Linked DNA regions of Homo sapiens: regions 2 and 3 are each linked to region 1. Evidence: fine-mapped expression QTL. A gene starts in region 1. Each other region holds a variant in brackets. All regions are shown on one strand. Distances are from middle to middle.

The links.
Region 2: its variant is fine-mapped to the expression of ADGRG5 in whole blood (TOPMed, PIP 0.99).
Region 3: its variant is fine-mapped to the expression of ADGRG5 in whole blood (TOPMed, PIP above 0.99).

What each region holds. Positions count from the first base shown.
Region 1 is chr16:57,539,087-57,545,082 of GRCh38, reverse strand. It overlaps ADGRG5 (adhesion G protein-coupled receptor G5), which reads right to left and starts at 2,440. Exons shown (of 12, transcript NM_001304376.3): 1 at 2,382-2,440. RefSeq lists enhancers at 677-986, 2,491-2,660, 5,534-5,593, 5,614-5,663, 5,914-5,996 and a silencer at 1,047-1,096.
Region 2 is chr16:57,604,583-57,609,582 of GRCh38, reverse strand. It overlaps LOC105371291 (a long non-coding RNA gene), which reads left to right and starts at 2,561. Exons shown (of 4, transcript XR_933627.4): 1 at 2,561-2,855. It also overlaps the pseudogene HMGB3P32. The variant A/C (reference allele first, on the strand shown) is at 2,597.
Region 3 is chr16:57,574,376-57,580,229 of GRCh38, reverse strand. ADGRG5 (adhesion G protein-coupled receptor G5) reads right to left here. Exons shown (of 12, transcript NM_001304376.3): 11 at 5,138-5,415; 12 at 3,041-4,792. The coding sequence ends at 4,692. All of the region lies in intron 1 of LOC105371291 (a long non-coding RNA gene), which reads left to right. Among named protein-coding and RNA genes, the nearest start is that of ADGRG5, 35 kb to the right of the region's middle. RefSeq lists a silencer at 3,726-3,795 and an enhancer at 4,842-5,011. The variant T/C (reference allele first, on the strand shown) is at 3,346.

The DNA of each region.
Region 1 (5,996 bases):
TGGGGGAGCCGGGTGTGGTGGCTCATGCCTTAATCCCAGCACTTTGGGAGGCTGAAGCAGGAGGATCACTTGAGCCCAGGAGTTTGAGACCAGCCAGAGTAACATAGGGAGACCCCATCTCTACAAAATTAAACATTAAAAAACCTAACCCAGCATGGTGGCATGAGCCTGTGGTCCCAGCTACTCAGGAGGCTGAGATGAGAGGATTACTTGAGCCTGGGAGCCGTGATTGTGACACTGCACTCCGGCCTGGGTGACAGAGTGAGACTTTGTCTCCAAAGCAAAACAAAACAAACAAACAAACAAAAAAACAGAAAGGTTTGGGGAGGCAAAAGAAGCTACTGAAGGAACTCATTCAGGAGAGATAACTCAGGCCCAGTAGTGGAGGACCTGACAGCACAGAAAGGATCTTGGGCCAATTTGTCCACCCCTTCACTATACTGTTGGTGAAACTGAGGCCCAGAGAGATAGATGGATTTGACCTGCAAGGTGTAAGACCAGGCTCTTACCCCCACTGGTTCCAGGCAGGCACTGAGGGAAGAAAAGCCTGACCCTACCACACAACTGAAGAAATTGAGGCCAAAGCAGAAGTGATACCTCCCCCAGGCACTCCAGATAGAAGCTGTGGTTTCCACCCCCTTTCCCAGGAGCAAACCACAGTCTTCACTTCTGCTTGCAACCTCCAAATTCCCCTCCACATCCCTTCAGAGAGGTCACCATGCACCATCCCCCCACACGCTGAGCCATTTCATTCTCCACCCTGCAATTCATTATTTGTGGCCTTCTAGGAAACAGCAATCCCTTATCTGACTTCCAGGATGGTTCCAGTTGATGGTGGGGAAACCGAATACTGCGTAAGAGGAGTCTGCTTGAGGTTCTACAGCAGGCCAGTGGGCAAGCTGGGACTCAAACCCAGGCCTCCACGGTCCAGGGCACTACCCCCTGCACACTGCAGCCTCCCAAAGATGGTTGGGCAGCTGAGTTGCTTTGCAGACAAGTAAGACTCTATTTAGGCCAATAGAGAAATGAGGAGCTGTGGAGCACAGGACAGAGCCTTTGGAAGATGAGAATTTGATAACCAGTTGCAGTATTCAGTGCCTAGGCTGTGTGACACTGGGCAGGCACCTGACCTCTCTGTGTCTCAGGTTTTCTCATCTGTAAAATGAGGCCAAGGAAATCTATTTCCCAGAAAGAGAAATTCAAACAACAATTTCCCTGATCCTCTCCTGGGAATCAGGCCCTGAGAAAGGTCCAGGGCTCTGATCAAAGTCCTTGGCCAGGAATACATCTGAGCACAAGGCTTGGGAACCCCTGCCTTCCTCCCTACAGCTGACCATGCACCCCCGAAGCCCACCTCTCCCCAGCAGCACGAAGGCCTACTGAGCCAGCCATTCTCCGCACACAGCCCCACCTGCCCCTGCCAACCACAGTCTGGAGCCCCTGCCCCTGGCCTGGGTGAGGAATCAATCAACCTGTGGTCTCTGCAAAAAAGCACTAACAGGCCAGGAACGGTGGCTCACGCCTGTAATCCCAGCACTTTGGGAGGCCAAGGCAGGTGGATCACCTGAGATCAGGAGTCCGAGACCAGCCTGACCAAAGTGGCGAAATCCCGCCTCTACTAAAATTACGAAAATTAGCCAGGCATGCTGGCTGGTGCCTGTAATCCCAGCTACTCAGGAGGCTAAGGCAGGAGAATCGCTTGAACCTGGGAGGTGGAGGTTGCAGTGAGCCGAGATCGCACCACTGCACTCCAGCCTGGGCAACAAAGCAAGACTCCGTCTCAAAAAAAAAAAAAAAAAAAAAAGCCCTAAGAAATGCTATAGTAACCCTATTTCCCAGGTTGGGAAAGAGAGGCCACCCTGGAGCCCAACAGGAAGTCTGTGACCAAGCCAGCAGCAGGTCCATTTACCTGAGACATGCTGTCCCCAGGATCCAATCCAGGTCACTCTGAAAGGAGCTGCACCTGCTCCAGATTGCCAAGCACAAACTGTGTGCCAGGTCCTCTACTGAGCCCCTGACAGCCATCCAAGGTGCAGGTTCCCAGACTCACCCCATTTTACAGATGAGAAACTGAGGTCCAGAAAAGAAACCTCTCTTCACTTGTCCCAGACCTCGCGGGGAAGCTAAGATTCGAGACCCATGCCTAACCACTTCTTAATTTAAATTGCCCCTCCTTCCAAAAGCACAGATCTCTACATTGCCCCAGATGTGGAGCTGCCAACCAGAAAGGGAAGGAGGGTGGGTCCCCAGCTTGCTCACCAGGATATCACCAGGTCTGTGCCCACCTGGACATGGGTATGGCCAGTGCCCACTGAGGGGCCTGTGGATAAGGACAGAGAACTGGGCAGAGGAGAGTGGGGAGAGGCCCGGAGGAGGCTGACCTGAGAAGCTGCCGCTGCCGTCTCAGCTGCTGTCTCGGCTGCTGTCTTGTAGCTTCTGCAGGAAGAAGGGGAAGTCGGGAGGCGTCTGTGGGTGGCCTCTCCCTTTGCCCCACACCTGCACCCCCACTGCACTTCTCTCTGCTCCCTTCACCCCAGGCCCAGGCACCACACTCTCACTTCACTTCTTCTTTCACCAGCAGCAGCCTCTTTGCTTCCTTCGAGCTGTCGGTCATGCCCTGGTCACCCTTTGAGGGTATCACCCCGTAGAGTCTGCAGCTACTTCCTGGGGTGGCTGCTCCTCTGTGGAGGTGCTCAAGGACATGGCAACGTGGCCTTATGCAGTGCGCAAGACCCACCTGAGCTCTGCACCTTTGGGCAAGACATGTTGCCCCTCTGGGCCTCAGTTTTCCCATCTATAGAAAAGGGAAAATGATCCCTGCCTGACCTGACAATTGATGGCATATTGATGATGGCAAAGACCTCAGGCAGCAGCTTGGTCAGACTGCCTGGGTTCAAGTACCAAGCCCACCACTTACTGGGTGGGTGACTTGGGGCAAGCCACTCATGCTCTCTGAACCTGTTTCCCCTCTGTAAAATGGAGATAATGACAGTACCATCTTGCAGGGCAGTGTGGGGCTTACAAAAGGTAAGGCTGGCAAAGTCACTGGAAGTGCTCTATGAAGCCGTCATATTTCACAGATGAGGGACCTGAAGCCCAGAGAGGACCTGGGCCTGGCCCAGAGTTGCCAAGTGGCAGAGCATGGTGGAGAGGGGCCTCCCTGGCCACAGAGCCCAGAAAACATGAGGCTGGAAAGCTGGCCAGCTTCTCCTTGAGCCAGGCAGCTGGATAGGCCTGTCCTGCATCAGCCATACCCTCTGAAGAGCTCTAAGGGAAAGCAAGGAGGTGTGTGTGGGGGATAGAGAGAGAGTGTTGGTAATGGGGAGACGGTGCTCTCTCTTGCCTGGGCCCCATCCAGACTCCTGGGAAAACTGACTCAGGAATGTGCTCTTCCAGCCCTGGGGGAAAGATGGAGAGGCAGCAAAAGGGAGAAACCAGACAGGTCCTAACATGGTCTCCCCGCTCTCTGCCTCACTGGGGCCCTTCCCGCATCAGCCCAAATACAGCTTGCAGGTAGTACAAGTGGCCTCTGCTGAAGCAGGAGGGAGCTGCTCCTTGGAGGGCAGCCAGGTCCCCACCCCAGCTGCACGGTGAAGGTTTTGCAGGGACACCGGTGCACCTGTGTCCTGACTCCTGGGCTACACTCCCTCTGGGTGACTTGGGCAAGCCTTGGCCCTTCTTTGCGCTTCGGTTTTCTTTGATCAGGATCCAGACCTTGACCTCCAGGCTCTTCCTTTCCGAGGTCACCCAGCTACCTCTAGGATTGCCATGCCAACCTCCTCCTTCCTCATGCTGAATGTGAGCCCAACTGGCTATTCTTAGGGCTCAGGAGGAGGCCCTGCCTACCCCATAGCCCCTCTAGCCTGGGTCTGTACCAGCCTCACTGTGCCTTGCTTCAGTTGGGGGCTAAGTTAGTGCCCGTTACTTAGCCCTGCACTCCTGATCCTGAAGCTCACTACCAAGATACTCTCCTGCTCAAAAGCCAGTGGTGAGGCTGGGTGCGGTGACTCAGGCCTGTTATCCCAGCACTTTGGGAGGTGGAGGCAGGCAGATTACTTAAGGCTAGGAGTTTGAGACCAGCCTGGGCAACATGGCAAAACCCCGTCTCTACTAAAAATACAAAAATTAGCCGGGTGTGGTGGCACATGCTTGTAATTCTAGGTACTCGGGAGACTGAGGCACAAGAATCGCTTAAACCCGGGAGGTGGAGGTTGCAGTGAGCCGAGATCGCACCACTGCATTCCAGCTTGGGCAACAGAGTGAGACTCCACCTCAAAAACAAAACGAACAAACAAAAAACCAGTGGTGGCTCCCTATTGCCTTCACAGTCTAACCCCGTCCAACTTCCATTGCCACCCAGTCTGATTGTGCTTGCCATATTAATACCCACCTCCCTGCTCGGTCCCAGCTGTGGTCCCACACATGTACCTGGGAAGCCCTCCAGCTCCTCTCCACCCATCAGGGCTCCACTGGATCCTGCCTCCTCCAGGAAGGCTTCTCTGCCTCCTGCTCCTCCAGGAAGGCTTCTCTGCCTCCTGCTCCTCTACAAAACACTCTGGATGCTTGAGCAGTAGGAAGCCTGCCAGTCTCCTCTCAGGCCCCCAGGCAGGGAGGAGGCCACATACCATCTCAGTAAAGTGTCTCCCTATATGGGGGCTACTTACCCTGGTGAGTAGCCTGCAAGAAGATTGTAGGTGGGACCCCGACAGGACTTTAGATAAACAGTCACAATGCAAAAAAAGTCATTTACACATCTTTTTCAATCTTGGTTGTGTCCAGCAAAAGCCTCAGCTTAGAGCTAAACTGTTTCTTTTGTTTTTTGTTTGTTTGTTTGTTTGTCTGAGACAGAGCCTCACTCTGTCGCCAGGCTGGAGTGCAGTGGCGCAATCTCGGCTCACTGCAACCTCTGCCTCCCAGGTTCAAGCTATTCTCCTGCCTCAGCCTCCCAAGTAGCTGGGACTACAGGTGCACACCACCACGCCCAGCGAATTTTTGTATTTTTAGTAGAGATGAGGTTTCACCATGTTGGCCAGGATGGTCTCGATCTCTTGACAAGTCAAGTGATCCGCTCACCTTTGCCTCCCAAAGTGCTGGGATTACAGGTGTGAGCCACTGTGCCCCGCCGAGGGCTAAATTGTTTTAACCCCTCTCTAACACAGACTATGTCCCTTATTTTTCCCCATTTTTCAATCTTTTATTAGACTTCAAAACAGGACGTCTGACTTTTAAATGTTTTATTGTGGTAAGATATATATATATATACACGCACACACACATACATATATGTAACAAAAGCTACCATTTTAAGCATTTTTAAGTGTAGATTCAGACCAGGTGGGTTGGCTCGCACCTATAATCCCAACACTTTGGACAAAGCCCTAGTGGTAGGACTACTTGAGCCCAGGAGTTCGAGACCAGCCTGGGAAACATAGCAGACCCTGCCTCTATAAAAAAAAAAAAAATTTAGTTGGTCATGGTAACGTGCCCCTGTAGATCCACCTACTCAGGAGGCTGAGGTGGGAGGACCGCTTGAGCCCAGGAGGTCGAGGCTGCAGAGAGTTGTGTTCGAACCATTGCACTCCAGCCTGGGTGACAGAGTGAGACCCTGTCTCAAAAAAAAAAAAAAAAGGGGTACAGTGCAATGGCATTATCTACCTTTACACTGTCATGCAAACATCACCACATCCCATGTCCAAAACATTTTTCATATTCTCAAACTGAAACTCCATACCCATGAAACAGAACTTCCTGTTCTCTACTCCCCCAAGCCCTTAGCAATCACCGTTCTATTTTCTGTCTCTTGAATTTGACCACTCTAAGTGCCTCATCTTAGTAGAATCATACAGTCTTTGTCCTTGCGTGACTGGCTCATTTCACTTAGCATGACGTCTTCAAGGTTCCTCCGTGTTGTAGTGTGTCAGACTCTCATTCCTTTTAAAGGTTGAATCACATTCCACTATGTGTATAATACATATTACATTTTGTTCATTCATCTG
Region 2 (5,000 bases), 65 kb before region 1:
CACAGATTCTATTTGCCATGCAGACTGATCTCAGCAATTTGGGGCTGCTGTGGCCCCACAGGGAGGAAACCGAGCTGCATCGCACAGAAGGGTCAGCCACATCCCCCAGTTGCATGGGGATAAAGCCCTCTGCTTTTCCACTTGTCTCTGAATTCCTGTCCCAGGAATTAGGATTTCTTGTGCAGGCTGGAATGAGCAAAATACTTAGGGTGTAACATTTAAGGAGGTGCCCACCGTCAGTGCCAATGGCCCTGCACCTCACTTTAATCTTCATGTGATTCTATTAGGCAATCTCTATTATTATCCCATTTCGTTGTCCAAAAAAGGAAAAAAAAAAAAAAAAGAAAGGAAGAAAAAAAGAAAAAGAATAAGGCTCAGAGAGCTGATGTTACTTGCCCTGAAAAGTGACAGAGCCAAAATTCAAACCCAGACCCATCAGATTCCAGCACCTAATGGCTTAACCATTGGGCCATCCTTTCTCCTGAGTACATGGGCACCCAGGTGATCCTCAAGTGACCAGTGCGGCAGAAAATACGCTGAGGCTGAGTGTGCAGGCGGCAGCTGCAGTCCCAGCTCTGTCCAGGCTCACCGGGTGACCTTGGGCAAGTCTCTTTTTTTCTCTGTGCCTCAATTTCCTTGTTTATAGAAGCTGGTGGCTATGCTGGGCCAAGAGTCACAAACTACAGTGCCCACAGCGGCCAGGCTGCAAAGCTAATGAGAGCAGGAAGGGGGCAGGGTGGGAGACAATAGGGAGTGGGGGGACCTGGGGTGAACTGGAGAGTATGGGCCACGCTGGGGAGCACTGCCCAGCTCCAGTGAACTGTCACTTGAGGAAATATGAGCCCCATGTGGCCTGATCCTTCAGTTTTTTCAAGGAAGCCAGAAATTTGAAATTAATGTGAAAATCTTAATTGTTATAAGTTGGGGATGAATTCAAATGGATTTAAAGCCTGTCATAAGCCAAACAAAGCCTATCTAAGGCTAGATCTCACCCTCGGGGCCTCCAGCAAGCAACCTCTAGATTCCATGTCAGAAGCTGTAAGTGTTCCTCAATATCCACCTCCCCTTTCTATACCAATAGAACCCCATATTTTCGCTGGGTTCATGGCCCCCTACAATAAAGACATTATTACCTAACATTCCTTGGAACTGGGTGGCCACATGACCAAGTTCTGAACAATAGGATGCAGCCATCAGTAAAGTCTGCAAATCTTGCATCATGCTCTTAAAAAAAAAAAAAGAGGTGCACCCTTTTGGAGGAGCAAAAAGGGAAGGGGTATGAGTGCCCAAAGTCCAGGAGCCACCACAGCCACCGTGCAGCCTGGTCCCTCGCATGGGATGGAAGTAAACGGCTTCTTGTTTATATGGGTTCTTACTCTTGAGTTTGTTACAGCAGCCAAAGTCATAACCTACCTAGCACAGGCTCTTTCAGGGATCTTCCTCAGGGCTCATAATTTTAAAGCCAGAAGGCTCCCACAATCCTCAATTCCCACCCCCATTCCTGACCATATACCTATTTTACAGATGGGGAGACCAAGGTTCAGAAAGGTGGAGAGTCTGTAACTTAATGAGTGAACAGCCTCTCTAAATGCAGACACAGCATAAATAGGACCCTTCTTCTACCCCAAATAAAGCTGCCAGGAGCTCATGTCTGGGAAAAGGGACTACAAGGGTGGGGACGGTGCCACCCGCATCCTCTCAGGGGCCACCGTGTGCTAGGCAAAGCCTTTCTTCACTGCTAGGGGCCCCTACAAGTCCCAGGCTTGCACCCCAACCCCGTGTTTCTTTGTTGTCTGCCCCCAGCCCGCAAGCCCATGTCTCTCTGGGCTGAAGAGGCCTTCAGGACATCCTTTTTTTTTTTTGAGATGGAGTCTCGCTCTGTCACCCAGGCTGGAGCGCAATGGTGCCATCTCAGCTCACTGCAACCTCCGCTTCCCAAGTTCCAGTGATTCTCCTGCCTCAGCTTCCCGAGTAGCTGGGATTACAGGCATGCGCCACCACGCCTGGCTAATTTTTGTATTTTCAGTAGAGACAGGGTTTCACCATGTTGACCATGCTGGTCTCAAACTCCTGACCTGAAGTGATCCGCCCGCCTATTCCTCCCAAAGTGCTGGGATAACAGGCATGAGCCACCATGCCTGGCCAGCACTGGTAATTTTTTAAAGCTCCTTCTACCCCTATACACCCCCACCCCCACACCCGCCCGATGGCCCCAGGCGACTGCAGGGTTGGGGCATGTGAGTCTGGTGGTTTCGCCCTAAGGGTCCTGGGTATCTGGTGCTCGGCACTTTGCCAGTCTCAGCCACTGGCTCAGCCTTTCCCCTGGAGATATAGAGGCTATGGGGGCAGTGATCTGGAAGGCCAGCTGTGTAGAAGTCCCTGAGGGTCAAAGTCTAGGTCTGGCAGTGTTGGAGAATAAAACCCTTGGCTGGCCAAACACTGGGAGGCTGCACCTGCTGCTCTGCAAATATGCCTGCCCCTGCCTGAGCAGGAGGCCTCAGCCAGCCCTCAGCAGGAACCCAGCCAGGGCCACCCACCCCAGCCATGCTAAGCCTCTGCCAGAGTGAGAGAGGCCCGCGTGGGCCAGGGGTGGCAC[A/C]AGAGTCACTCTCAGGGTGGGCCAAAGGGTATCACAGAGACAGCCCGGCCCTGGAGCCATGCAGACCAGGAGCCGGGTGCCACCTCCAACACCAACTCACAGTGACTTTGGGCAAGTCCTTTTTTTGTCTTGAACCTCAGTGGGCCTAGTCTTGGCAACTGTGCAGTCGAGTGTCCAGCCCAGGGTCTAGACCAGAGCCAGTGGCAGCAAACAGCCCTGTTATCAAGAAGCAACATAACAAGAAGAAAGGAGAAAAAAGGTAAGCTGATTTTTCCTTTTCTGAGTGTTTGCAGAAGTCAACAGATAATGTCCAAGGTTAATAAATCAGGAAATGGCAGTAGAAGCATGTTATTTATGGCTCTGGAGGTAACTGCCACATGAGCTCGAACTATTAGAAGTGGTTGCCTCTGGGGAGGGGGCTTGCAGGAAATGGGCTTTTCACTATAAGTCCTTTTTACCAGTTCGTGTTTTTTAATGTCTATTTAGAAGTATTTATTAAAAAGTGACTCTGCCCCTCCACTCTTGATTTTCCAGGTCATCCCTGTTAACAGAAGTATTTTTGGCCTATAAGGCCATGTATAGGGTTAAGTGCTCAGACTGTGGAGTTGGGCTGCCAGAGTTCAAATCCTTGCTCTGTAACTTACCAGCTGTGCCGCCTTGGGCAAATTACTTAACCACTCTGTTCCTGTTTTCTCATATGTAGAATGGGAGTAATAATAATTCAATGCTCCTGGTTTACACAGTAAACATTCAGTAATTGTGAGACATGATTATTATATATCCCTGTAACTCATATATGCAATTGTTTTACAAAAATAGAATTAGTATGCTATACACAGTGTTTGCAACTCGCTTTTCTTTCTCTTGCCAAGTTATAATGGATATCATTTCTGCTTAGAATGTATAGTTCCATCTCATTCTTTTTCATTAGTACAAGAATTCCATTGCATAGAATGTAAAATTATTTAGCCATAACCCTCTATTGAAGGAAATTAAGGGGTCCTATTTTTTAGTGTAATACACTTTGCAGTAATTAACATATATATTTTGGCACATGTGTGGCTATTTCTAAAGGAAAGATACCTAAAAGAGGGATTACTAGGTTATAGAATTGTGCAATTAAAAATTGTACAGATACTTGAGCCGGGGAGGTCAAGGCTGCAGTGAGCATGATGGCACCACTGCATTTCAGCCTGGGTGACAGAGCAAGACCCTGTCAAAAAAAAAAAAAAAAAGGTATAGACACTGCTAAATTGCCCCCTTAAAAAGTAGTACCAATTTAGAGTCCCACCATATCCATTCCAATGTGGAGGTGATCTCTCTAGATGGGCAAAAAATTGTTTTAGTGTGCCTATTGTAATTCTGAGTGGAACCGAGCATCTTTTCATAACTTCATCATCCATTTTTCTTTCTTCTCCTGTGAAACAAATGTTTATATCCTTTATCCAACTTAAAAAAAAGTAATACTGTTTATTTAACTTCAAAAACATTTCAGCATTCTAAACATACAAAAAAAATAACAGAATGTTGCAAATCGTGTTTAAGGACAGAAGGTTCCTGAATTTTCATTGCAGTGACTCTTTGCTTTAGTGACAATGAAGAGTTCTACAGTTTAAAAACCACCACACTTAACTAAAAAACAAAACAAAAACTAAACACTTCTCATGCCAGCTGACCCCCCCATCTTTGCCTTTAGCTAAGAATGGCAGCAGAAAGCTGTCACCACATACAGAAACAAGACAACTTGAAGCTAAATGAATGCCCACTGCACAGTGAACCGGTCCAGCGTCACGGTGCATGCCCTCAGCTATGGCCCCTCCAAAAGGCACCTTCCCCACAGCCTCAATGCCAGACAAGAAGCATCAAGAGCTTGCCTCAGTTGTTTTATTCTTTTTACAAACTATGGACATATACAGTTGATAACTCAGGATTTCTAGCCAATAACCATATAGTTAACACCATCTTACAAATTATAAAAATGCCAGAAACATGGTTTCTTTGTTTGTTTTGTTTTGTTTTGTTTTGTTTTGAGACGGAGTCTCACTCTGTTCCCCAGTCCGGAGTGCAGTGGCGTGATCTCGGCTCACTGCAAGCTCCGCCTCCTGGGCTCAAGCGATTCTCCTGCCTCAGCGTCTCAAGTAGCTGGGATTATAGGCATGCGCCACCATTCCCGGCTAATCTTTGTATTTTTAGTAGAGACAGGGTTTCGCCATGTTGGCCAGGCTGGTCTCGAACTCCTGACCTCAGGTGATCCGCCCACCTCGGCCTCCCAAAGTGCTGGGATTACAGGCGTGAGCCACCACACCCGGCCCAGAAACATCTTTAAATGCCCTGTCACACCAACAGCAAAGTGCACAGAGTGAGAATATGAGAGGGCGTTTTCATTTTAAAATGTTCGGAGGCT
Region 3 (5,854 bases), 35 kb before region 1:
TGAGTGCAGTGGAGTGACTACGGCTCACTGCAGCCGCAAACGCCTGGGCTCAAGCAATCCTCCCGCCTCAGCCTCCCAAGTAGCTGGAACTACAGGTGTGCCCCACCATGCCTGGCTAATTTTTTTGATTTTTATAGAGACAGGGGTCTTGCTATGTTGCCCAGGGTGGTCTCAAACTCCTGGCCTCAAGTGATCCTCCCGCCTCAGCCTCTTGAGTCACTAGGATTAAAGGCATGAGCCACCACATCCAACTTGAGATAATACTTTTTATTTCTTGAAGTTCCATTTGTTTTCCCCCAAATCTCTCTGTCTCTCTTCATTTCTATTCGTTTATATGCTCATCTTTGCGATTGCATCTTGTGTTTCTTTAAACGTGTCATATATGGCTATTCTGTATTCCGTCCCTGGGGTCTAAAATCTGTTGCTTCCTTCTTTTCTGCCGACTCTCACTCGGTGGCTTACTTTGTGATTTGGGTAAGTTTTATATTGAAGCCCATTGCTTCGTCTCACTCTGGGCATCCTCCTGGCCTAACCAAGGGAAGCTTACCTCCATATTGAGTTTGCTTCTCTCTTGCCAGTAGCAGGGGGCACCCCAACCCAGGACCACCTCAGCCCCCTCAGAGAGTTTTATCTCAGAGGTGGTTCAACTTCCCATCTTCCCCACCCCTAGCTCTTCCAAAGTTCACTATCAAGAAATGGAAAAATTGCTATAAGACTGGCTTTGGAACCAGCCCTCCCCTCCAGGCAACCTGCCAGTTCATGCCAGCTCTCTGACACTCTCCCACGCCCCCAGCTCCAGCGCCCCTGGGTTCATTCTCCAGCTCCCTCTGCTGAAACCCAGGCTCTTGGCCACTCTACTCCCTCACCCTCCTCAATTTTTCTTCTCAGCACTTGTCGCCACCTGTCATATCTTATGTCTATTTGTTAAACTGTTTAGTGTGAGACATTCCTCCCCCACAAGAATGTGATGACTTGTTCATTTATATATCCTCAGCAACTAGTACAGTGCCTGGAATATAACAAGTGTTTAACAATTACATGATGGGTGAATGAATGAGCCAATGAGACACAGCACCTGTCTCCAAAATGCCCTCGGTCTGGCAGCTGAGACAGATGGGGACAGTCATAATACAAAGAAATAACGTCTGTCATGGGGGAAGGGCGGGAGTGGTGGGGCTGAAAGGAGGCCCCACCCTAGATTTGAAGTCTGCATTGAGGGGAATGAGGATGTGCAAGGCTGAGATTTGAAGGATGTGTCGCCATCACTCCACAAATGAGACACACAGGGAGAGCCTTCCAGACAGAGAACAGCCCAGAGATGAGAAAGAACCTGTTCAGGGAACCGAAAGCTGTTCAGTGTGGCAGCACCGAGGAGGAGGGGGAAGGAGTGGTAAGACACGGCTGGAGAGGGGGACACAAGCCGGACCGTGGGCCTTTCAAGTTCCACTGGGGAGTGTGGCAATGAAGAGGGGGTGCTGTGGAAGGGCTTCCGCAGGGGTGGACACGGGCAGGCTGCAGGATGGAAAACACCCTCTGGCTTCTGGGTGAATTTGGAATTGGGAGTGGGGAGGCAGGGAGGTCCATGGCGCCTCTACAGGGGATGGGGGCTAGGTCTGCGCCAGGGCTGACAGCAGGGGTGGGGACACCCAAGGCAGACCCCTTGGGATTTCTGGTGGTGGCTTTGGCTGGCAATAGGAACACCTCAAGCTGAGTGGGCTGTGAATGAGGGGGACTCATCCAGTGGGCAGAGGGGCTTCCCCCTCAGCACAGCCTGGGTGGATTTAGAGAGTGAAGAGTCCACACCCCGGACTCCTGAGCCAATGCTCTTCTCATTAGAGCTTCCAGGTTTAGCAAAATCAAAATACATCAATAATAGGATACCCTGCTACATGTGAATCCAGGTAAACAATGAATAATGTTTTAGTACGTCTCCCAAATTGGGCATCTGATATTTTATCTGGCAACCCTATTTTCAATAGCCCCCCCATACACACACATGCACACACCCTTTTCTGAAATAACACTAACAAAACCACACACAGAAATCTCCTAATCTGTGGTCCTGTTGACATTTACATGGCATCCGTTCACCAAGTGCCTGCTCTGAGTCCCTGGCCCTGAACAACAGCCCCCAGACTCCACCCCATTCCATCCTCCTGCTAAGTCTGGAAGCTCCCAAGAGCTGGCCCCAGGGCCCCATCTGGGCTCTGCTGGGAGAGAGAGGAAGGGGGAAGAGGGGCCCTGCCTGGCTCCACACTATCTCCCTCAGTCCCTCCCCCACACCCAGTGAGACATTTCCAGGAAGTGGTCCCTGCCCAGGGCCTGGACCCCAGTGGGGCTCAGGGCCACAAGCTTGGGGCTGCTTCCTGGAACTGCCAGTCTCCTCCCGTGTCGCTGTGGCCACATCCTCCCTCGGGCAAGCCCTGGGCTTGGTGGGGTCTGAGAGGCTGGGTCCTGGGCTGGGGGGCTCTATGCAGACCCAGCCACAGCAGGAGCCTGTGTCCCCACTCCCTGGGGCTGCCCAAGAGAAGGGCTAAAGGTTCCCATAATTCCTCGGGACCCTCATTAGCAAGGGGACCCCCTGCCCCAAGGCCTGGAGAGCCTGGGCTTAACCATGGGAGCTTGGATGGGTGCTCACATCACCCAGATGGTGGCAGGGGTGGGGAGAATCTGCCTGGAGTTAGCGTGGGAAAGAGGCCTTCTCTAGGCACCGCTGGGGCAATTTTGTAGATGTGATAAATGACCACCAGGAATTTCTATAGACCGGAAGATTGGGGAACTGGGAGGTCGGGGGACATGTGGCATGGCCTGGAGGCTGCACTGTGTGGGGACTATTCCTAGAACAGCAGAAAGTCAGCGAGGTGGGAGTAGAGACCCGTCTGGGGAAAGAAACTGAGGCATGGTGAGATGTGCCTAAGAAGGGGTTGTGCCTACAAGGTTGAGCAGAGCTGGGCCTGGGGCTTAGACAGGCTGGCCTCTGAAACTCAGTTAACACTGTTAACAATAATAGCAAAAATACTAATGATAATACCAGTAACCATTTACTGAGCACTTACTCTGTGCCAAGTCTCTTTATTTGAATTCTTTTACTTAGTCTTCAAAATAGGTACCACTATGGCCTCTATTTTACAAATAGGAAAACTGAGGCACACAGAGGCTGAGTGGTTTGTCCACAGTCTCACAGCTAGCAAGTGGCAGAGCTGGCATTGGAGCCCAGGCAGCCTGGCTCCAGAGCCTACGCCACTCACTGCCTGGTGAAGGAGTTATTTGCATCTAGAAATGTACAGAAGAGCAGAAGATGTCCCAGGAGAACTTTTCCCCAGGGGAAATCCTGCTCCTATTTTC[T/C]GCCTGTGACCTTCGAGGTCATCAAAACGGCCCAGTGGCCTGGGGCAGGGCCCTGAGCACCCACCACCTGAGCACCCTGCTCTGGTGCCAGCTATGTCTGGGGTGCAGCCCCCAAGAGCGAAAGTGCACCGCCGCATTGGGAAAAGAGACAAATGGCCGTGTAAGCGTGTCTTGCCTTTCCTCCTGGAGGAAATGGGTCACTCAGTAGGCGCAGTCCTGCAGTTACGGCCCCTCCAGCTGGTGCATGGGGTCTGCAAACAGGTGTTTGAGCGATTCTAGATGCAGTCTTGGCGCCAAGGGCCTCTGAGTGTGGACCAACGGTGCCGCCTAGTGTTCGTTCTGGGAAACGCACTGGCTTCATGAGCACTGTCTCATGAAGGTCTGGGGTAAGGGTGATTCTCTGAAACTATGGCCTGAGCTTCGAATTTAAAACCCACACTCTCACGCCTACCTGGGCAAATTCAATCTTGCCCAATCACCAAACAGCCAGGACACTGGGATCCAGCTGATTCAGCTGGAGGAGAAAGAAGCGTTTTCCTCTGCCCCCAAGAAAACTGCGGGATGGGCTACTGGTCCAGATGGTCTATGGAAGTCTTGGGAGCACCGCAGGAGGAGCCTCTGGGAACGGCGGAACCTCCCAATCTTTGGGAAGGGTGGGCTTGGACTTGGAGTCATCATAATTTAGGGAGTTAAAGGAAAAGAGGCCTCAGGCATAGGCCAGTAAAGTCTCAGAGCCTGGGTAGGTCCCACCCGCCCCAAGCCAGGATGCCATCTGGCCCTCCCCTGGAGGAAGGTGGCAGGGCCAAGCAGGTGCTTCCAGGGCAGCCTGAATGAGATCCTGCCCCTAGCAAGCAGGTGGAGGCCGCGGGAATTCCCACCCCACGCTGACACTCTTCCCCCTGGTCTTATGCAATTTTTACTAAGCTCCTGGGTTAGGCTGAAACAAAGCCGCTTGCCCCCATGTCACAGCTGTGGATACCTAGGGTCTGTGAGAAGTGGCAGGCCCAAGGTCATACAGACAGACTCAAAGACAGTCCTTGAAACTTGGCTTCCTGATGCCCAGGCTGGTGCTCTGCCCACATCCCTGGCGAGCTGGGCCCAGGTACCAGGACAAAGTTTGCTGCCCCAGGTAAGGTTGGATCTGCCCCGGAGCAAAATGTCAGGGAGAGGTAGAGCAATGCCTTCCCCTCAGTGCCTGGAGAGGCCGTGGAAGTGGAAAAGGCCCCTTGGCGGTCACAGTGGCCTCTGGGGTCCAGCAGCAGGCCTGCCACCCTCTCTAGCAGGAGCCGTAGCCTCAGGCTACTGGCGGCCAGAGAGGCTGAGGATTCCAGGCCAGGAGGCCCGGACTACTGTGTTGTTTGGGAGGAGCTGAAGGCCTCTATCTGTGCCTTGGCCTCTGCTTCTGAGCGGCACCGCTGGGAGCAGAACCACAGGAAAAGGAAGAAACCTGCAAGAGAAAGGCGGGAGTTCCACGGGGCAGCATGGGCTTCCCCAAAGGCCAGGGTCTCCTTGGCTGCAGCGAGCTGGCCTCCCTGGGGCCCATGGGCAACTCCCAGAATCTCTTACTGTAGGAGGCCAGAGGGGCAGAGCCTCAGAGCTGGAAGAGCTGCTGTGGCCAGTCCATAGGGTACCTTCATGCAGATGTAGCCCCCACCAGCTTAGCTAGTGGAGCTGTGGGCTGGATGTTAGTCCCCCACTCGCCCCCTTCACCTGAACCCCTTTAGCAGTGAACATCCCACCAGCCATACACCCCCTGCCAGGTAGCTTCCTCCAGGCCGCCCTCCAGCCCTACCGTAGAGCGAGTTTAAGATGGTGAAGAGGAACAGCTGGGGCAGCAGGAAGACGCCAAAAGAAAAGAAGGCCAAGGCCCAGGTGGTTCCCAGCAGCACGGTGAGGCCCAGCACAGTGACAGTGTCATGGCAGGCCCTGACACTTGGTGCATCCGCCCGCTCCCGCAGCCTGCGCAGGGTCCACAGCGCCCAGGCCAGCACCACCAGGTTGAAGAGGGACGTGAGGCCGCCGTAGCCCATGACCAGGACACTGTGCACCACGGGGCTCCGCACCCAGCATCTGCAGGGGAGGGTGACGTGTCAGGCTCACAGTGGCTCCCAGGCCCGCGGGGAGGCCAGCATCACTCCCTGAAGCCCCACTCGGTCTCCTGGCTCAGGCCCTATTGTTTCTTGCCTGACTGAACACACAGTGAAACCCCTCACCCGGCTTTCCAGCCAGGCCACCATCAGAGGACACATCTGCCTCCTTGGTCAACAATCTGAAGCTCCCTCATGCCCACCTTTCCAGCCACAGTGGTTTCTCTCACGTCCCCATGTCTTCACCCCCCTGAAAATTCTTCCTCTCTCCTTTCCACATCTCACTCCTCTCTGCTTCCATGGCCAGCCCAAGGCCGGCATGCCCCATCTTCTATTGGATCCTTGGCCCGGAGCCCTCTTTCCTGGAAACTTCCCCTTCCACCCCACTACATGGTTGTCACCACCTCATCACCATCTCTGCA